Linked DNA regions of Homo sapiens. The protein of the gene in region 1 interacts with the protein of each later gene in a biochemical or structural test. Each region holds a gene or a part of one and is shown on either strand. Other genes may lie near its edges.

Region 1 (7,160 bases):
TCAGGACTTTGGAGTGGGACCTGGGCCGTGCTGGGTCTTGGGAGTTGGGAACGAGGAGGGCTGGCTGGGGCTGCTCTGTCTTGGGAGCTGGGAATGAGGAGGGCTGGCTGGGGCTGCCTCTGTCAAGGGGCTGGCAGGCAAGAGGACGTGTTGATGTTTATTTGCTTGGCTGTGGAGTATCCTGAAGGGTGGATGGGGGAGTGGGTGATCGGAACAGTATGTTGACTTATGGGTACAGGAGGGCCTTGAAATGGGAAGAGACTAGAAGCTCAGACCTTCTGGACCCACGGGGGGAGTTGGGAGGCTCCTGTGGTGTTGATGGGAGAAGTGATGACATTTTGCGTTAGAGAAGATAATGAGAGTGGGAAGGCTGTGGTGAACAAGGATTGCAAGAGTCAGGGACCCCAGAACAAGAAGCAGGGTTGGGGGTGGTGCTGAGGCCACACATTTGGGAGCACGCGTTGGGTGCCCTGGCTGAGCTCTGCACTCCAGGCCCTGGGTGTGTGGGGTGAGCAGCCAAGCCCTGGCCATTGACATCCTCAGGTTGGGAGCAGACACTAAACAGGCTGCTGGTGGTGGTTCTCTGAGGAGGAATAAACCGGTTAGAGAGGCCAAGTCTGTAGATCTCTTGCAGGTGGAGACTGAAAGGAGGTGGAATGTGTGGCTGTCTACAGGTGTATGAGTTGGTTCTCATGCTGCTATAAAGATGTACCCGAGACTCAGTAATTTATAAAGAAAAGGGGTTTAATGGACTCACAGTTCCGTGTGGCCAGGGAGGCCTCAGGAAACTTACAATCATGGCGGAAGGGGAAGAGGCATGTCTCACATGGCAGCAGGCTAGAGAGAGCGGGCAAGAGCAGGGAACACTGCCTTATAAACCATCAGATCTCCTGAGAACTCGCTTTCACTGGAACGGCTTGGGGAAACTGCTCCCATGATCCAGTCACCTCCCACAAGGTCCCTCCCTCAACATGGGGGATTATGGGGATTACAAGTCAATATAAGATTTGGGTGGGGACATAGCCAAAGCATATCAGCAAGGAAACTGGGTAGAGTAGACTTCCGGTTTGTGGGAACTGGGAGGTCAGGATGGAGATCACTGGTCACTGTCCGTTATCGATGGCCACTGATGTCCACAGACGTTATTAAATCGTGTGGCCATGGCTGGGCGCGGGGACTCACGCCTGTAATCCCAGCACTTTGGGAGGCCGAGGTGGGCAGATTACCTGAGGTCAGGAGTTCGAGACCAGCCTGACCAACATGGTGAAACCCCGTCTCTACTAAAAATACAAAAAAAATTTGCTTGGCATGGTGGCAGGCACCTGTAATCCCAGCTACTTGAGTGGCTGAGGCAGGAGAATCACTTGAACCCAGGAGGCAGAGGTTGCAGTGAGCGGAGATCACACCACTGCACTCCAACCTGGGCAACGAACAGTGAGATTCTATCTCAAAAAAAAAAAAAAAATAAGGTTTGAGTTGGAGCTAGTCTGATGCAGCAGGGAGCCCTGTTTTCATCACCACCCCTCTCCCCAGTCTCAGGTGTGGCTGAGGGGCCTTGGGGTCCCTGATCCAGCCTCCTCTCTTGCATGATGATCACCACCCCTCTCCCCAGTCTCGGGTGTGGCTGAGGGGCTTTGGGGTCCCTGATCCAGCCTCCTCTCTTGCATGATGATCACCACCCCTCTCCCCAGTCTCGGGTGTGGCTGAGGGGCCTTGGGGTCCCTGATCCAGCCTCCTCTCTTGCATGATGATCACCACCCCTCTCCCCAGTCTCGGGTGTGGCTGAGGGGCCTTGGGGTCCCTGATCCAGCCTCCTCTCTTGCATGGTGCCTCGCGCCCCATGCTCGGCCTTCAGTGCTGTCTTGAACGTCCCAATGGAGCCACCAGAGTGACTTTCCTAACAGAAGATATGATCTGCCTTGAGGCTTGGACCCCAAACCCCTGTGGGGCCCGGGTTACCGTGGCTCCTGCCTGTGATTCCAGCACTTCCGGAGGCTGAGGCCTGAGAATCAGTTGAGGCCAGGAGTTTGAGACCACCTTGGGCAACATAGTGAGATCCCAGCTCTACAAAAAAAAAAAAATTAGCTAGGCGTGGTGGCATGCGTCTGTAGTCTCAGCTACTCAGGAGGCTGAGGTGGGAGGATTGCTTGAGCCGAGGTGGTCAAGGCCACAGTGACTCCAGCCTGGGCGACAGAGCAAGACCCTGTCTCACGAAAAATAAGTAAATAAACTCTTATGCCCTGGCCCTGCCTCCCTGGCCAGTCTTATCCCTGCCCTCACTGTGCTTGGGCCCTTGCACACTGCACTTTCTCAGGTGTGGCCTGTTCACCTGTGGCCCCTTCTACCAGGAAGACAGCTGCTCTGCCCAGTGAGTGCCTTGGAGTCTCCAGAGTCCTCGTCCCTCCAGCCGCAGAGGCTCCCCCGTTCTGCGGCTCGTTTTGCTTGTGGCTAGTGGTAAATGCTGGGCAGCGGGCTTCCGGGTGCGGTGAAGGGGCCGGCGGTGGTGCCTGCCCACTTCTATGGTGTGGATTCTCCATCAGTGCGGGGTCCTTGAGCTGAGTTGGAAGGTGCGAGTAGCTGCCCTCAGGAGCTGGTCTGAGGCTGTGGCCCGAATACCCCCTCAAGCCCTGTAAATGTATCCCTGCGTGAGTTTTTGGAGGACAGGAACGAGGCTTTGGGTTTCTCCTCGTCTTTGTACCTGAGCTGTACGTCGTGTCAATGAAGGTGGTGGCGGGACAGACGGGAAGAGAGAAGCCGCAGGGCCTCTGGGTGTCTGGGCGGGTGGCAAGCGAGGGTGACCTGTGAGCTGTGACTCTGGGTGACCGGGCCCTGAATGAATGGCGGGCTGCAGAGGCGGGAGTGGGGCTGCGCCAGGGGAGAGAGCTGTGGCCGGCGCTGCTTCTCGTCGTCAGTGTAGACGTTGCTTTTAACAGATGAGCAGCACCAGCAGTAAGAGGGCTCCGACCACGGCAACCCAGAGGCTGAAGCAGGACTACCTTCGCATTAAGAAAGACCCGGTGCCTTACATCTGTGCCGAGCCCCTCCCTTCGAATATTCTCGAGTGGTAAGGCTCCGCGCCACTGATCGCCCTGCGCTGACTGTCGCTGCCACGCAGGCCTCTGCCGGCCCCTGCTGGGCGAGCCTGGTGCCCCAGTCATGGCATTGGCAAGGTGCTCCTGCACCCTCCCCCGGGGTGAGTGGGGTGCCCAGGGGCCTGTGGACACTCTCTGGTCTTTTCCCAATGGACGCATGCCGGGGACATCACAGAGCCATGCTTGACTCAGGCTGGGGCTGGAGAGAATCTCCGGTGTGGGGCCCTTGAGGGGGGCGGGGTCCAGGTTGACTCAGGTTGGGGCTGGAGAGAGTCTCTGGTGTGGGGTCCTTAGGGGAGGGGTCCAGGTATGCAGGGTTCACAGCTGTTGCTGGTGTGCACTCTAGGCACTTAGAGGAGAAACTGCCTTTCTAGACTCTGCTCTTTGCTTCTGGATATGGGAATTAGCCTGTTTTGGCTTGGAGTATTTGACAGGACTAGGGTCCGACACTCCTGTCCCTGGCACTGGCTTGGGCCAGGTGCCCCGACCCTCAGGCTGACAACGAGAGGACCTGTGCCTCATAAGCATTCACCTCATGGTGACTCTCCCCCTTGCTGAAGTATAGAGTGTGAGAGTGCATACTGCTCTGTCGAAACACTGCCATTACAGGTCTGCTAGTAATTTGGTAAGAAATAAAGTGTGAGAGGCCGGGCATGGTGGCTCACACCTGTAATCCCAGCACTTTGGGAGGCTCAGGCGGGCGGATCACCTGAGGTCAGGAGTTCGAGACCAGCCTGGTCAACATGGTGAAACCCTGTCTCTACTAAAAATACAAATATTAGCTGGGCATGATGGCGCACACCTGTAGTCCCAGCTACTCGGGAAGCCGAGGCAGGAGAATCGCTTGAACCCGGGAGGCGGAGCTTGCAGTGAGCTGAGATCACACCACTGCACTCCAACCTGGGCAACAAGAGCGAAACTCTGTCTCAAAATAAAATAAAATAAAATAAAATGTAAGGATGTTTTATATTTTGATCTTTTAAAAAAAAATTACTTATTATTATTTTTTGAGACAGTCTTGCACTGTCACCCAGACTGGAGTGCAGTGGCACAATCTCGGCTCACTGCAAGCTCTGCCTGCCGGGTTCATGCCATTCTCTGGCCTCAGTTTCCCAAGTAGCTGGGACTACAGGCGCCTGCCACCATGCCCGGCTAATTTTTTGTTTTTGTATTTTTAGTAGAGACGGGGTTTCACCGTGTTAGCCAGGATGGTCTTGATCTCCTGACCTCGTGATCCGCCCGCCTTGGCCTCCCAGAATGCTGGGATTACAGGCGTGAGCCACCACGCCCGGCCTTATTTATTTTTTTGAGACAGAGTCTTGCTCTGTCGCCCAGGCTGGAGTGCAATGGCGTGATCTCGGCTCACTGTGACCTCCGCCTCCCTGGTTCAAGCAATTCTCCTGCCTTAGAGATGGGGTTTCACCATATTGGTCAGGCTGGTCTCGAACTCCTTATCTCAGGTGATCTGCCTGCCTCAGCCTCCCAAAGTGCTGGGATTACAGGCTTGAGCCACCATGCCTGGCCTAATTTTTTTTAATTCCAGAGAAAAGATATTTCAGTGAGTTGAAAGGAAATGTGTTTCGGCTTGGTCAGGGGTCCACCTTCTCTGGCTCACAGAGGAGGCCCAGCCCAGGCAGGCGGAGGATACCCAGGGTGAGGCGGAGCCCCTTGGCCACCAGAGTGCTCTCTGCCCCCAGTGTTGAAAATCACATGTGGCCCCAGGACATCGCTGGCAGGTGAGAGGGACAAGTTCCACGGTAGCCGCCTCCTCGCTGGTTGCGAGGACGTCTTCATTGTGTGGGGAAATCCCTCCCCACAAATCTGTGGGTCAGGCGTCCCCAAGTCCCGGTGCAGGTTCGATGATTCACAAAGAATACTCACCATTAAAATTACGGAGAGAAGTCCAGGCACAGTGGCTCATGCCTGTAATCCCAGCACTTTGGGAGGCCGAGGTGGGTGGATCACAAGGTCAGGAGATTGAGACCAGCCTGGCCAACATGGTGGAACCCTGTCTCTACTGAAAATACAGAAATTAGCCCGGTATGGTGGCGCACGCCTGTAATCTCAGCTACTTGCTACTTGGGAGGGTGAGGCAGGAGAATCGCTTGAACCCGGGAAGCGGAGGTTGCAGTGAGCTGAGATCGCACCACTGTACTCCAGCCTGGCGACAGAGTGAGACTCCACCACACACACACACACACACACACACACACACACACACACACACACAATGGAGAGAAAACACACACACACACACACACACACACACGAGAGAAAACTGCAGTCAGCCAGCGGAAGAGGCATGTGGGGCAAAGTCTCTGTGCTCCATTCCCAGCAGCAGGCTTGGGTTTGGACGGCATGTGTGGAATGTTGAGCAGAGAAACTCATTGGAAACTAAAACATTAGGGGAAGGCCCAGGGACTTTATGGGGCTGGTCCTAGGCACCCTCTGCCTGGCACCTGCCAAAATACCAAAATACCAGACTTCCAGGAGAGCAGGGGCTCAGCGTAGCCCATGTTGCCTGTACTGTTGAGGCATTAAGGACAGCAGCGTCAGTGCGAGAGCCCCTGGCAGGTCCTCGGCAGGTGTCTCTCCCTTCCCCGAGAGAAGACTGCTTTCCCAGAAAAGGCCTGTGGGGTGCGCTATGGGCCACGTGGATCCCATCTTCTCTCAGCCGCCCCAAGGCTGCTGGGCTCTGTCTCAGGAAGAGGATGACTTCTTCATTTCTTCCCAGTTTTCGCAGGTTGGGCACAGTAACAACGTAAGGCCACATTCCTGGGTGCATCGCGTGCTGAGCTCAGAGCCACTGGGTTCCTGGGTCAATGACACATGATAATGGCATTTTTTGAGTAAAACATACCAGCTGGCTCTGCTGATACATCATCCCATTAGTATACATTACTATACGTCATCCCATTAGTAGTTTCTTTTGAGTACTATTTCTGTCACTCAGGCTGGAGTGCAGCGGTGTGACCTCGGCTCACTGCAACCTCCGTCTTCCAGGTTCAAGCGATTCTCCTGGCTCAGCCTCCTGAGTAGCTGGGATTACAGGTGTGTGCCACCATGGCTGGCTAATTTTTGTATTTTTAATAGAGACAGGGTTTCACCGTGTTGCCCAGGCTGGTGTTGAACTCCTGACCTCAGGCAATCCACCTGCCTCAGCCTCCCAAAGTGCTGGGATTACAGGTGTGAGCCACCGCACCTGGCCTAATTTTTGTATTTTTAGTAGAGACGGAGTTTCGCCATGTTGACCAGGCTGGTCTCGAATTCCTGACTTCAGGTGATCTACCCACCTTGGCCTCCCAGAGTGCTGGGATCACGGGCATGAGCCACCGAGCCCAGCCCCCATTAGTTTTAAAGTGATGGCACACATGTCCTGGGGCAGAGCAAGGGGAAAGATGATGGCCGGTGTTGGCCGGTGTTGGCAGTTGAAGCCATGTCTGGTTTCTGGCATTTCTAGCTGGTTTTACTTTCTTCTCTGTGCTCTTCTGTTTCGTTTGGGAATCTGTAAAGCCCAGACACTTCTTTACGTAAAGCAGAAGCCTTATTTATTTGTGTGGAGGAGTGTTTAGTCGATTTGCTGCTGCCCCTGGTCTGAGGGTGAGCTCTGTGTGGGGACTGTGGCTTTGGACACAATCACGGCAGTTCCTGTTCCTTCTGCTCCAGGACAGCTGCTCAAGTCACTTATGGTTTTTCCAGGAGCACGAGAAAGGGCTGGGGGTACCGAGCCGGCCCCGCATCACTAGCTGTGTTCTGTTTAGCCTGCATGTGTGATATCAAAAAACACATTATATATAAGTACATTTAAGAATATACATTTCAAAGTACATCGTTTTTTCTTTGGAGATAGGGTCTCACTCTGTTGCCCAAATGGGATGTGGTGGCACAATCATAGCTCACTGCAGCCTTAAACTCCTGGGCTCAAGTGATCCTCCCGCCTCAGCCTCCTGAGTAGGCGGGCTGCAGGCATGCACTACCACACCCGGCTAACTTTTTTTTTTTAAATAAAGGTGGGGTCTTGCTATGTTGCCTAGGCTGGTGTCAAGCTCCTGGGCTCAAGCGATCTTC
Region 2 (7,447 bases), on another chromosome or scaffold:
ATAAGTTCTATTGCTGTTTTCAGTTATCCACGAAAAGTGTTTATTCAGCACCAGCTATGCGTATGAATCACTTAGTGTTAATATAAAGTTACAATTTCATCTTTATCTCCCTATTAGAGAATAAAAGTTGACAATCAAATACTACAGACAGAAGGAAGGGAACTAGGCCAGGTGCTGTGGCTCATGCCTGTAATCCCAGCACTTTGGGAGGCCGAGGCATGTGGATCACTTGAGCCCAGACCAGCCTGGGCAACATGGCAATATCTTGTCTCAACACAAAAATTAGCTGGTGTGGTGGCGTATGCCTGTAGTCCTAGCTGCTCAGGAGGCTGAGGTGGGAGGACTGCTTGACCCTGTCTCGAGGAAAAAAAAAAAAAAAGAAGGAGGGGGAACTATTGAGGACTTTGTACCAAGAATATTAGCACACATCACTTCATTTATTTTTCACAACAACCCCGCAAAGTAGATATTATCACTATCCCTATTTTACAGACAATAAATGGAGGTGTTCTTAAGTTACGTACACTTGGCACAGGGTCCCATAGCTAGCAGATAGGAAGCATCTGAATAGAAGAGTAAATCTCTCATATACTGCTGGTGGGAATGTAAAATGATGCAGCCACTTTGGAAGACTATCTGGCAGTTCCTCAAAAAGTGAAACCATAGAGTTACTATATGACCCAGTAATTCTACCAAGACAAATGAAAATGTGTCCACACAACAACTTGTACATGAATGTTCATAACAGCACTATTCATAAATGCCAAAAAGTGGAAATAACTCAAGTGTCCATCAACTGATGAATGAATAAGCAAAACACGGTATATCTATCTACACAATGGAATTTTATCTGGCAAGAAAAGAAAATTAAGTACCAATACATGCTACACATGCATGGACCTCAAAAATGTTAAGTAAAGTAAGCCAGACACAAAATGCTACATATTGTATGATTCTCTTTATATGACAAGTCCAGAACATGCAAATCTGACAGAAAGATTAGTGACTGCAGAACAATTAATGATTGCTGAGGGCTGGGACGAGAAGGTAAGCAACTGCTAATGGATATGGGTTTTTTTTTCCCCGGCGGGAGGTTATGATGAAATGTTCTGAAATTGATTGTGGTGATGGTTACACAACTCTGAGGATATACTAAAAACCACTGAGTTGTACACTTTAAAACAGGTGGATTATATGTCAATTAAGCTGTATATATATATATATATATATATATATATATATGAAAAAAAGAGTGAACCGCCCTTTACCGAATAATGTTGCCTAACAAAACTATAGTTTTCCTTATAGAGTTGGCTCTCAAAATCAAACCATGAGGGTAGCCAGGTTGAATGGATTCTATATATTATCTAGACTCTTCTAATTAGGGAGTTGATTATTGAATTGGATATCTTTGAATATCTGGTTGTTTGAATTGGATAAAGAAAACCTCAAAGTGCCCAGAAAACATTAGGAACAAGAAAGTGTGTGAAGAAATGAAGACATGAAAATTCTCCCTCATATTCCCAATGCTGGCTATCCAAGGTTCTTTGGATTTTGGCCCCAACATGTGAAATCCGTTATATCATTTTCTCTAGATTTAGAAGGCAGTGCATAATAAAGTGGCCATCAGTTCCTGCGGATTTGCAACACAAGACTATTTCTATGTGACTATTAGCAATAGTTGGCTCTATCAGGAATTCAGGAACGAGTCTTTTGGAATGGCTAGAACTGGAACATATATGCACTCTTTCAAACTTTGTGCTGACTTCCTCCTCAATGTTGGATGCATTTAGACAGGAAGGAAGATAACCTTTCGAATCCTGAATGGTCTGCCATTGGGCAGTCATAAACATACCACTTCTTTCCTTCTAGCACCCTGGGTAAGTTCCTTTTATGACCAAGCTGTGGCATTTAGACATTTCCTTATGTTTCTTCCAGGTACTTAAGGACAAATTTAGCTCCTGGCTTTTCCTGATTTGGGTGGGTTTGGGTGCCTCTAGAAAGTACTTCCTCTACACTTGATTGAGCTCTTTTATTTGAGCTGCTCTCGATTCACCCGCCCCACCCCCACTTCTTTTTTCTTTTGCGTTGCTTTTTAGTTCTGTTTAATTACCTGCTTCTGGCAATGTGGAGCTTTCCCATAACTGGATTAGCAGCACTATAATAGCAGTAACCCTTTCATTACCAGAGTAATTTTCTTTACTTGTTTTGAACTTCAGCATTTACAGGCAGCTGCTATTAAGTTAAAAGGTAAAAAGACATGTGACTTTTTCCTGCTTTTACAAGTCCAGAATACTTCCAGTGAGGGTTACAGGGCTTTGAAGCCATTTTCTCCACTTTAAAAAAAGGAAAGGTAAGAGCTGAAGTAGGCCTCTCCTCCATTTAAAACACAAATCCAGTTAGAGACCAGCCTGACCAACATGAAGAAACCCCATCTCTACTAAAAATACAAAATTAGCCAGGTGTGGTGGTGCATGCCTGTAATCCCAGCTACTTGGGAGGCTGAGGCAGGAGAATTGCTCGAACCCAGGAGGCGGAGGTTGCGATGAGCCAAGATCACGCCACTGCACTCCAGCCTGGGCAACAAGAGTGGACTCCGTCTCAAAAAACAAACAAACAAACAAACAAAAACCACGCAAATCCAGCAACCATACTTCCTTTTAGAATCACATTTTCAGGATTCTGCCATTTATCCAAGAATAATAAATAAATAAAGTTAGAATTTAGTGTTACGTTCATTTTGACTTCTTTGTAATCTGTTTCTGGCCTTAGGTTTTCTTGACTCAGTCAGATGTAAAGTTGTTAAAACAGGGAGGGGATCAAGATAAGGCCTTGCTATCTTGGTCCATTTCCTATTCCAGTCATTATTCATGTGACCTCTGTAATTTTTTTACTTACCAGGCTAGATTAAGAGACTCATGAACTGCATCACTGGGATGTGACAGGATTTATGACTATGGTGAAGTAGTCTGAGGCACCTGGATGAAAGGTGGTTATAGTGAGTTATGTACACAATTCCCACACATTTTAAACACTTGATTCCTACAGAGCTATCAAACTAATGGAAGGCAAGTTACTCAGAGTTTGGTTGACTGATACCTCCAGGGATTGCATTTTCTAAATACAGAGCTTGCTTTCACAATTTCAGCAGGATACAAGAGTGTTCAGAATTGGGGGTTTACCATTCAAAGGGCAGAGGCCAGAGACTTGAATTTACAAGGAGGGTCCTCAACACAGACATCGAGATTACAGTACATTAATTTCTCTTGCACATGAAGAAGTTGAGGCTTCACAATTTCAGCATGACCCAGTATAGTTGCAACATCTTACCCATCACTGGGTGTGTATCTTCTGTGTACACTGGCCCTTTCAACATCTAAGGCCAGGCTAGGTGCTCATAGCAACTGGCTCCCCAGGAACTAACGAAAGAGAAAGCAAGAAACAGTGGAGGGGTTTTGGTGATGGTGGAAGGCAGGGGAGATAGAAGTGGGGGTTGCAGAAGGTCGTGGTGAGGCAGAGTGGCAGACAAATGGGGAATGAGAAGTCTTGCCAAGCCCAGAAGACTATCGTTGTGTAAACACACAATATGCTTCAGGCTATGTATTCTGGGCAACAGTTCCTGCCCTAAAAGGTGTGGACATTTAAATTAGGGTAGGATTGCGCATTCTGTGATAGAGACTGGCACAGAGACAAAGTGGAACTCCTCTACGTTGGGGAGGGGAAAACATACATTAGCCTGTTTTGAACCTTAGACCAAGACAAGACAAACACACAAACACCATTTAATTTCATACTGCAATAAAATTCTTTGTACCAAACCATGGGATCAAAATTGTTACAGATACTCAGTGAACAGTTCCAATGCATTCATTCATCCAGTCACTTACTCCACAGGGGTTTGAGTGCCTGCACTTGGTGCTGGGCACGGCTGAGCCATCCCAGACGCCAAGGAGTTTACAGTCTAGTCCAGTCAGTGACGAGGTTAAAACGAATTCTCGCATCATTGCTACTGCGAATGCACCGGGACAGGATCAGCCCTTCAAATTCTCCCACGTGGTCCCTGCAGGTGAGTGTGGGTGTGAGCGCTTGCGGCCCGTGGTGTTTGGGAGTGAGAGAGCACGTGTGTCAGAATGGCGCCTGTCACAGTGCGCGTCCAGGTGTCTCTGCAGTACGCCTCTCCATAGCCACCCGAGCCGGGCTGTATGGGCTTGGCTAGGCTTATGTCTCCCGCCCACGCACCGGAGGCGGTGCGGAAAGCACTCCGCGGGCGCGATTGTGAGTGAGCGCGGGCGCGCGCGGGAGGGGCGCGCCGCGCTGGCTGGGCCGCGCGCAGGCGCAGAGTGCGGAAGTCGGGCCGCGGCCGCCGCAGAGCGCCGGGGGCGGGAGGAGCAAACGCAGGAGGCCATGGCCGCCGACGCCGGCGCCGGCTGCTAAGGGGCTCGGCCCGCGAGCGCCTGCTGCCGCGGACGATGGTGACCGTACGGGCCGGGCCGCTGCCGCTGCCGCTGCCTCCGCCTCCCCAGAAGCAACATCCGAGGCTCGGCGCAGAAGAGCCGCCGCTGTGAGCCGTGCCGTACCGGCCCCCGCCGCCGCCCGAGGAGAACGGGAGGGCGGGCGAGAGAGCCGGGGAGTTGCGGAGCCCGCCCGCCGGCAGCGCCGCTCCCCAGGGAGGGAGTCCGCAGCCTGAGGTGACCACGCCGCCCGCCCGGCCCCTTCCCATCCCCGCGCCCCCCGGCCGCTTCCCACGGCCTCCCTCCCCTCCCCCATCGCGTCGCAGGCTCCTTCCTCTTCTCCCTGTTCGCCCCTTTCCTTTTATCTCGCTTCACCTCCCTCTTCTCCCTAGCATTGGAGGAGTCCACATCCCCTCTTCAGCCGCAGCACCCCTCCCTCCCATCCTCTAGCTCTTCCCGCGGTGGTCGCCTCCCTCCGACCCTGCTCTCCCCTCCTGGGCCCCGCGCAAAGCCCCCTCTGTTCCAGCTCCCGGGCCTCGGCTGCCTCCCCGCCCTCCCATCCCTTCCTCTTCCCAGGGCCTGGAGCGCTCCCTTACATTCCTGAGATGCCCTTCCTCGGGGCTGTCCCCCTTTGCCTCCCCAGCATCCCATTTCTAGGCCTTTTTCAAGACCCTTCCAGAGCGGCCCCTTTCCAGCTCCCTTTCTCGTTTCCATTTCCAACTTTGCCTCTTTTGCCTCTTTGTTCACTTTGCTTCCAAGCTCCCCTCCCTCTTTCCCTTCGTCTTACCCTGCTTTGATCTACGCAGCCCCAAACTCAAGCTCCCCGCTTTCAGGTGGTGCGAGGTTGTTTGGGGGTGCGGAAGGGCCTGCCAGTCCATTTTTCGAGGGGGGCCCATTGCTCTGCATCCCGTCCGTCAGTCCCTTTTATAGTAAGAGGGCTCCTCATCCCTTCCTTTTTGTCCCCGTGGTTTCCTCTGTCTTGCCATCCCTTCTGTCTTCTCCCTCCAATACTGCTTTCCCCACCCAAGGACCCTCAGACCCGTGAACCCCCTTTCTGGAATGAGTTCCCTTTCTGTTCGGGGATGCTGAACTTCGCCCGCGTTTTTCTTCGCGAGCCTTTTGGTACGTGGCGTGGCGCGACAGAGTCAGCACCCTTGGCGAGATAGGAGGGGAGCTCTCGAGCCTCTTTCCTGGAAGAGTTTTTGCTGAACGTAATCTCTTAGCCCCGCGGCGGCGGCGGCCCGGTTGCTGCTGCTACTGCTGCTGCGCTGCCTGCTTGCCGCGAGCTGGGTTGGGGTTACTGTAGTTCAAACGCATCTGAGATCTGCAGGCGTTGTGGGAGGAGGTGCGGGGAGAGAGGAAGGGGCCTGTGCAGTGAGCAGGCATCAAAGATTAGTGGATGGCCTTGCGTCGCAGTCTGCAGTAAAGAGGAAACTAGTCTGAAAGGGAAGGAGAGGACTGTGTGTCTTTTTATTTTTTAAAATACGGAGTGTGCAGTTTTACTGAATCTTGAATCATGCCCAAAAGAATGAGCTGTCGGTGCTGCAGTCGTGACCCAGGCTGAGCGGCCGATGGCAGAGGTAGCAGTTTTATTTCCTCTCTCTGTTCCTTAAGTTGAAAGATGGCCTTTGTATTCAGAGTAGACTCCCTGTCTTTGCGGTTTGGGAGATGATGAGAAACCACAGAATTGCTAGTAGTTTATGTGGAGATCAGGTACATACAAAGTTAGCTAGCAAGGAGTGGGAGTGGGGAGGACCAGCTATATTTAAAACATGTGCCATTGCTTATGTAAGAAATGCGTTCTCTTTCCTGGTATCTCAGTTCTGGGCTTTTACTTAGAATTTTAGGCTCTAGCTTTGTGCTCTTAACATTTTCAGTGAGGCCTACCATCCTAACCGATGGACAGCCCGAAAATTTACTTTTCTTAAGATCAGTTTTAGTTGATGGTAGAATTTTTTTTTTTAACTGGTTGGGAGAAAGAAAGGAGATAATGGTGAATGATGATTTTTGTTTTTCTTTTTTAGGGGGAAGGTGTAGAAGTATTGTACTGAATAGTTTTAAGTTGGGTCACGTGTCATTCTTGTTTTTTCTTTGTCTTTTTAAAAAAAAGTTTAGGAGGTGTATTTTTGAAGAACTCAAATAAGAGAAATAAAAAATCACATTTTTCATTTCTCTTATTTGACATAGTTCTTCAGAGATTAGCTGTGACTGTAAAAACCTACATTTTTCTTATTCAGGACGATTTGTTTGGTTTCTTCATATTCAAAACTAAAATCCCGTATTTTCAGGAAAGTGTAGAATGAAGCCCCCTGTGTTTTCTAACCCACAAATTTGAATGGTAAACTGTACAGCATTATACTTCTACAAGACATTACTGTTTTCATAATTACGGATTGCTGCTTCTAAGCCTGAGAAGGTCATTTAATGAACTCATTGAGGTCTCCTTTTTGGTTAGCATTTGTTGCACCTCTTGTGGTTTTTGGAAAGAAATGCCTTTTTTTTTTTTGGTTTGTTTTTAGCTGTTTTACTGTGTAAAACATCTTTGAGTCACATTTAGTTTATGTTACCTGCAGACACATCATGTTGGATATTACTTTCCCAGTTCTTTTCAAAGTTCAAGGAGGACATTTTAAAATCTTGCATGGAAGATAAAACAGTATAGGAAGTTTATGTATTTGGCTTTGGGTGTGTTAAACCTTTCGGTTTTTTCTGCTTTCAGCTCTCCTGCTTATTTTCTAGGATTATTTGGTATTATTTTGTTTTCAAGAGAATATTGAGCTCCCCTGTACTTTAGGATATGCTGATTAGCCCTGTTTGACAATAAATCTGGAACAGGATAAATTAGGCAACATTATAAAGGTATTCTCTAGATCAGGAGAGAAGGCTCCATTTTACTTCGTGTTTGTATGATATAGTGATTTGGCAGGTGTGAGTAATTGCAAGTACTTGCAAAGAAGATGAATATTTTAAAGTTTTGTTTTGATGTTGGTTTAGTG
Region 3 (7,000 bases), on another chromosome or scaffold:
ATCAATGCCTACTACCACCACAAAAAAGAACTCAGTGAAAATTCTTCTCAAAGGAATTATGTGTTTCCTGATGGAACTACTCTCCTGCCTCCATGTAGTAGTTTTACTGAAATAACCAAATGGTGATTGAAACCTGTCTAGATTCAACCACCAATTTACAGAACAGAAGACCAAGCCAAATGTTAGGAGAAACCACAAAGATAAAGTCAGCAAAATCCAGTCTGCATAAAGTTGTACAGGACAAATGACTAGGTTTCTCAAACTTTTTCGAGTAGTGATTAAAAGGAAATTAAGGATAGGATGCAGTGGCTCACACCTGTAATCCCAGCACTTTGGGAGGCTGAGGTGGGCAGATCACTTGAGGTCAGGAGTTCGAGACCAGCCTGACCAAAATGGTGAAACCCCATCTGTACTAAATACAAAAATTAGATGTGGTGGTGGGCGCCTGTAATCTCAGTTACTCGGGAGGCTGAGGTTGCAGTAAGCCGAGATCATGCCACTGCACTCCAACCCGGGCGACAGAGTGAGACCTGTCTCAAAAAATAAAAATAAGGCCAGGTGCAGTGGCTCACACCTGTAATTCTGACACTTTGGGAGGCTGAGGTGGGCGGATCACCTGAGGTTGGGAGTTCGAGACCAGCCTGACCAACATGGAGAAACCCCGTCTCTACTAAAAATAAAAAATTAATCAGGAGTGGTGGCCCATGCCTGTAATCCCAGCTAATTGGGAGGCTGAGGTGGGACAATCGCTTGAACTTGGGAGATGGAGGTTGCGGTGAACCAAGATCGCGCCACTGCACTCCAGCCTGGGCAACAAGAGTGAAACTCCGTCTCAAAAAAGAAATAAATAAAAATAAAAAAAGGAAATTAAGGAAACTTAACTTTTGGTACCTAACTCATAGCCTCCAGAAACCCATTCATGTACTGTAGATTAGTCAACCATCTTGTAGGGAATTGTTTATAGAGGGCACAATCACATTTTAAGAGTAAATAAATAACATCCTGCTAAATCTTTTGAGGAAATGAGCAATTCCATATAGATTTGTGAGAATTATTTAGAAAAAAGATTTTAGGTTGAATAATTGGCTTATTTAATAAAGATTTACCCTTTTATTCTATTCTTAAAACTTGTTTTTGGCCTTAGGGTATTCTTGTGACTTACGGAAAATTTGATAGTAATTATCAAATTATTGTTCTAAACTCTGAAGCTCATTTTTGGTATAACCTAGATAACAATTGCATATTTGTATGGACAGGTATTTACTGATTTCTTTTACAAATAAAACATTGTGCTTGCTTGTAAGGAATAATCAAGGAAATTAACATGTGGTCATTTCCTTGAAAAGAATGGATAATTCTATAGCAGCCATGGTCACAAATAATACAAGGTGAAGAATTAGTCAACTAAGGAATGGGAATAGGATAACAGGGATAGACTATGGACTAGCCAAGCAATATTTTTGGTAATAGATACTCTTTCCAGTTTGGGGAGCAGAAGAAAAGAAAAAAAAGAGGCCCGGAATATCTTTTTCAAAAGAAACTTTGTTGCCCTTTCTTTATTCCTAATAAATTTGCTTATTAATGTATTCACTTTGGGGCCTAATTTGGCTTTTACTGACAAATAGCTGCCAACAAAGAGCTGTATGTATTATCTTGTACACCTATATTGAAAAAAAAAATTCTGCATTATGAAATATTTACTCCAGAAGTTTTAATTTTTGTTTGCTGTTTCTTTTTAAGAATAATTTTTTTTTTTTTTAGAGATGGGTCTTGCTATGTTGCTTGCTGGAGTGCAGTGGCTAGTCACAGATGCAGTCATAGCATACTGCAGCTTTGAACTGGGCTCACGCCATCCTCCTGCCTCACTCTCCCAAGTAGCTGGGACTACAGACATGTGCCACTGTAGCCCAGTTCAATTCTTTCTTTTTTTTTTTTTTTTGAGGTGGAGTCTTATGCTCTGGCCCAGGCTGGAGTGCAGTGGGGTGATCTCGGCTCACTGCAACCTCCGCCTCCTGGGTTCAAGCGATTCTCCTGTCTCAGCCTCCCAAGTAGCTGGGATTACAGGCACACACCACCACGCCTGGCTAATTTTTGTATTTTTAGTAGAGATGGGGTTTCACTATATTGGCCAGGCTGGCGTCGAACTCCTAACATCAAATGATCCTCCCACCTCAGCCTCCCAAAGTGCTGGGATTACAGGCATGAGCCACTGTGCCTCGCCAAGAATAAATACTCTTGATTTTTATTTCCTTCTAGCTATCTTTTGTAGCTTTTGTTCTATTTTTTTTAAATCATCTTTGGTTTAAACTGAAATATACTGAGATGCAGATTAGAAAAAGCTTTTTTTCTTGGTGCAGGGCAGAAGAAAGGCTTGTAAACTTCACCAAATGCTGCTTATGCTTGTGGGATCGTTTAATGTTCATCATTTGGTCAGTCTCATCCCCATAGCAGTCAGAATATTTCAAGTCACTTTATACCATGAAGTCCATGAATGGGAGGCCTTATTAAATAAGATGATTATGTGAAAATCTAATGGCATATTGATGCTCTGAAATATGTTATGTAAATCTTGGCTTTTAATTTTTTACATTTTTATTACAGATTCTGAAGAATATTTCTGTGTAAAAAGAATTTTCTCAGGGGGAGATCAAAGCTTTTCACATTACTCTAGTCCCCAGGTAATAATATAGTCATGTAAATAATTAAATAGCTCCAATAATTTTGACAAATTTTAAAAACCCATTATTAATGTTCTTTATATGTTACAAAGTAATTGCCTTAGTTTTTTTCCCCTTAAGTCTACAGAATAAGTTTTTTCTGATCTATTTGATAGGTTTTTGTTTCAGGTGTTCAGGAGAGATTTAATTCTGTTTAAAGAACAAATATATGGTGGGAATTTCTTGGTTTTTGAGTTATATATAATATCTCTTCCCTCTGACTAATCTTATTTGAAAATTTAGAACTGTGGGCCACCAGATGACTTCAGATGTCCCAATCCGACAAAGCAGATCTGGACAGTGAATGAAGCTCTAATTCAGAAATGGCTGAGCTATCCTTCTGGAAGGTTTCCTGTGGAGATAGCCAAGTAAGAAAAGCATTTTGGGCCAGGCACAGTGGCTCATGCCTGTAATCCCAGCACCAGGCAGATTGCCTGAGCCCAGGAATTGGAGACCAGCCTGGGCAACATGGCAAAACCCTGTCTCTACAAAAAAATACAATTAGCTGGGCGTGGTGGTGCACACCTGTGGTCTCAGCTACTTGGGAGGCTGAGGTGGGAGGATCAGCTGAGCCCAGGAGGTCGAGGCTGCAGTGAGCTGAGATTAACACCATTGCACTGTAGCCTGGGCAACAAAGTGAGAACTTGTCTCCAAAAAAAAATATCCATGGATATTTTTAAAGATCTTAATTAAATATGTATAAGTTGTAGTTCTTTCATGTGCATAGAGATATGTTAAATGATAACATAAAATATTTAATGTAGCCATTTTAGGATTGGCCTTGAAATGTGTTCCTTCTGGTTTTATAATGGTCACTATCTTAACTTTTATACTTTGTGGAAGACTTGAGTATTATTTCTTTCTTGAATATTTTGTTAACTTGCCTAGTAGCACTTAAGATGTTATTTGTTTTTTGTTGGTATTTGGGATGATGGGTTGTATTTGAAAAGCTGTTTTGTTTCTCTAGCTTGTTTTCCAAAACTATAATTTTTCTGAAAATCCCAAAGGCATCCCAGATTAGGCTCACTGCCAATATAAAATGTTTAAAATTTTTTTAAATTAAAAAACTTTTTACATGAACATACACACTTAATTTTTAAAATACCATGTTTTAAAGCAGATAACATTGGATAAATGGATGAAAGTAATATTTAAGAAAGTCTAGAATAAACAGTAATACCTTCATCAAGTATTATTTTATCAGTCTTTAGCAATTTATGTAATTCTGATTCATCTAATTGGGTGTTAGAGGAGTGCTCTGTAGCATTAAACATTAGATTAATTATTCATTTTAATTCTTTTTTAAGAAAGGGTAAACAATTAAATTTCTGATTCTATGATTAAAAAAACTTTTTTAAATTTTTTAGTGAGATAGATGGAACGTTTTCTTCCTCTGGTTGCCTAAATGGAAGTTTTTTAGCTGTTAGGTAAGTGGCAATTCTTTAATATGCTGAAATTTTCAAATTTATTGTCTTAAATAGTATATCAAATTAAAAAATGAAATAATTTTAAATTTTTATTCTATTTTTTTTTTTCTTTTCTGTTTTTTAGCAATGATGATCACTATAGAACAGGTACCAGATTTTCAGGGGTTGATATGAATGCTGCTAGGCTTTTATTCCACAAACTTATACAACCTGATCATCCGCAGATATCTCAGCAGGTCTGTTTTTAAAGTATTATGTTTACAGTATTATCTGTTGATTTTGTTTTCTTTTGTTTTATACGTTTATAGCCTAATTTACTTTGCAGTTTCACAGACTCTTACGATGTGCTTTTAAAATAAGATTTTATTTTAAAGCATTTGTAATTTAGCTGTCAAAGATCTATAAATCTTTTCAGATGTTTGAAGCAGACCCTGAATTACTTAACATTACCACGTTGCTTAAGTTTGTGTATGGTTATAGAGGTAGAGAGTTTAAATTGAGACTTGTACACGTGATTTTTTAAATTCTCCAAGTAATGCTTAGGCATTAATTTTCATTGTGCTCCAAAGTATATTCATTGTAAGACATTGTCTTTCTTTTTTCTTCTTCACCATTTCATATTTGCTGTAGTGCAAAATTTTCCTTTTCTTTCTTTTCTTCCTGCCTTCCTTTTTTTTTTTTTTCTTTGAAAGTGTATTCATTTTAAATGAAGTAGGTTTTACTTTTTGTCAAAATATAGGTGGCAGCTAGTTTGGAAAAGAATCTTATTCCTAAACTGACTAGCTCCTTACCTGATGTTGAAGCATTGAGGTTTTATCTTACTCTACCAGAATGTCCCCTGATGAGTGATTCCAACAATTTCACAACAATAGCAATTCCCTTTGGTACAGCTCTTGTGAACCTAGAAAAGGCACCACTGAAAGTACTTGGTAAGAATTCTAATATTTTTTCTTTTGAAACCTTTTCTCTTTAAATGAAAATGCTTCATAAGTTCTTTTGCCATTTGCAGTTCTGCTGCCCTGCTTATTTGACACTGTCTTAGGCAAAAATGAACCTGTTTTTCCTTTTCTTGCTTTTGTCTAGTCTTTTGATTCTAGTTGTTGGAGTTGTTGAAAGAAAAACATGTTAGATATAGAAGTTCAATTAAACATAACAGCAGAGACAGTATTAGGAAAGTTAAAAACTGTCACCCGTATTCCTTTCCCTCATCGCCTTTAGTATAATCTTGCTATTAAAGAAGTAAAGGAGGAGGAACAATTAAAACTGAACAAACATGGGCTTTAAATCTTCTTGGAACCCTGATATAAGCCCTTTATCTTGTGTTTCCTTCACTTGCTAATTTCATGATATTTGATTTTATTTTTCTGCCTATAGACTAGATTTTATTGCTCATCTGATCTTGCACTTCTATCTCTTACTGTTCTGGTTTTTTGGCATAAAGTTTTCTCACTTTAATTTTTCTAATTGTCTAGATTTTATCTCTATTTCCTGGCCTTTATACTTTTTTTGCTACATTTAACCCAGTGCTTTTCTTTCTAATGGTATTTGTTAGATATGTGGAGCTGAGATATATAGAAGTAATAATGTCAGTACAAGAACTTTAAGGCTGAGGGTAAATGGAGGAAGCAACAAGCAAGGGGTAGAATATGGGAATCTGAGGGAAAAAGAGTCAAGCAGGGACTGAAAAGAGTATTGCTTTCCTGTTGTCAGAAGTTTTTGTATTCTTTCTGCCTGCTTCATAGGATTGAAGTGTTTGTACTTAGTAACTACAAATAGTGAATGTGGGGAAGGACCCATATGTTACACTTTACATTGTTCAGCTTCTGTATTTGATCTTCAGGAGTACCTTGCATTTTAAAGGTAGTGGTTCACAATATTTCAACCATATATTAAATTGAAAGATAAAAGTTAGAAAGATCCTTTAGTATTAGAGCAATACAATTTAAAGGATGTTTTGTTTAAAAATTGAAACTGTAATTTTCAAAACATTTTTTAAAAACTGGTTTTAATATTAGGTATAGTGGTGAGTTTTTTATATAACTTAGGAAACCAAGAATATAAATTCAACAAGACTTTCACACTTTATTTTTGCTTTTGAGAGCTTTTCGGACAATATTGTTTAACTTGGTCGGGGGGAGGTTTATAAACCTTACAAATGTTACATAAGATATTGTGTTATATGCATCTTTCTGGGGTTTTCTCAGGTTTAACAACTACTGTTTCAGAAAAAAAGTCAGTATGATTTTGAAAATTGTGATTTTTTAAAAAATTCATTTTATTTGCATGTTCACTTTTTAATAACAGAAAACTGGTGGTCAGTACTTGAACCTCCACTATTCCTCAAGATAGTAGAACTTTTTAAGGAAGTTGTGGTACATCTTTTGAAACTCTACAAGATCGGTATTCCCCCTTCTGAAAGAAGAATTTTCAACAGTTTTCTTCATACTGCATTAAAGGTTTTAGAAATACTACATAGGGTATGTCCAATCATTCCTTTATTTTCCTCTTTCCCCATTCCTATTAACAGATTGATACTGTTCATTTTAACATTAATCTATTAAAGATTTAGATTGGCAAAAACAATGCATATTATAGAAATTTGGAAAAGTTATCTATACTTTCTCTTAAAAGAAGTAATAAACCTGTCCTTTGGAGCTCTGGTCTTACCTGACTTTGTTAGGCATGTATAGATAACTTATCCATAGTTGGGCAGAACAATAACATACTAATGAGTTAGAATTCTCCTTATATTTCCTTATGAAGAATATAATTTGTTAGTTTGCATTATATGGTTTTTGTTAGCTGTAAGTGGTTATCTTGTGAAAGAGATTGGGTCCTAGTTGTAATTATGAACAT

What was found.
Region 2: the proteins of UBE2J2 (region 1) and RNF145 form a complex in vitro, tested with the Homo sapiens proteins (one study listed by BioGRID).
Region 3: the proteins of UBE2J2 (region 1) and HERC4 form a complex in vitro, tested with the Homo sapiens proteins (one study listed by BioGRID).

Annotation. Positions count from the first base shown.
Region 1 is NC_000001.11:1,263,766-1,270,925, reverse strand, and holds part of UBE2J2 (ubiquitin-conjugating enzyme E2 J2), read left to right. Parts: intron 1-2,933; coding exon 2,934-3,064; exon of another isoform or gene 3,065-3,156; coding exon of another isoform or gene 3,157-3,193; intron 3,194-4,635; coding exon of another isoform or gene 4,636-4,828; intron 4,829-5,335; exon of another isoform or gene 5,336-6,095; coding exon of another isoform or gene 6,096-6,143; intron 6,144-7,160. UniProt on the Homo sapiens protein: Catalyzes the covalent attachment of ubiquitin to other proteins. Seems to function in the selective degradation of misfolded membrane proteins from the endoplasmic reticulum (ERAD).
Region 2 is NC_000005.10:159,206,472-159,213,918, reverse strand, and holds the start of RNF145 (RING finger protein 145), read left to right. Parts: upstream 1-4,365; 5' UTR 4,366-4,688; intron 4,689-4,780; exon of another isoform or gene 4,781-6,022; coding exon of another isoform or gene 6,023-6,034; intron 6,035-6,092; exon of another isoform or gene 6,093-6,119; coding exon of another isoform or gene 6,120-6,164; intron 6,165-6,270; exon of another isoform or gene 6,271-6,441; coding exon of another isoform or gene 6,442-6,444; intron 6,445-7,447. UniProt on the Homo sapiens protein: E3 ubiquitin ligase that catalyzes the direct transfer of ubiquitin from E2 ubiquitin-conjugating enzyme to a specific substrate.
Region 3 is NC_000010.11:67,988,284-67,995,283, reverse strand, and holds part of HERC4 (probable E3 ubiquitin-protein ligase HERC4), read left to right. Parts: intron 1-2,601; coding exon 2,602-2,678; intron 2,679-2,960; coding exon 2,961-3,085; intron 3,086-4,084; coding exon 4,085-4,144; intron 4,145-4,268; coding exon 4,269-4,380; intron 4,381-4,883; coding exon 4,884-5,073; intron 5,074-6,448; coding exon 6,449-6,621; intron 6,622-7,000. UniProt on the Homo sapiens protein: Probable E3 ubiquitin-protein ligase involved in either protein trafficking or in the distribution of cellular structures. Required for spermatozoon maturation and fertility, and for the removal of the cytoplasmic droplet of the spermatozoon.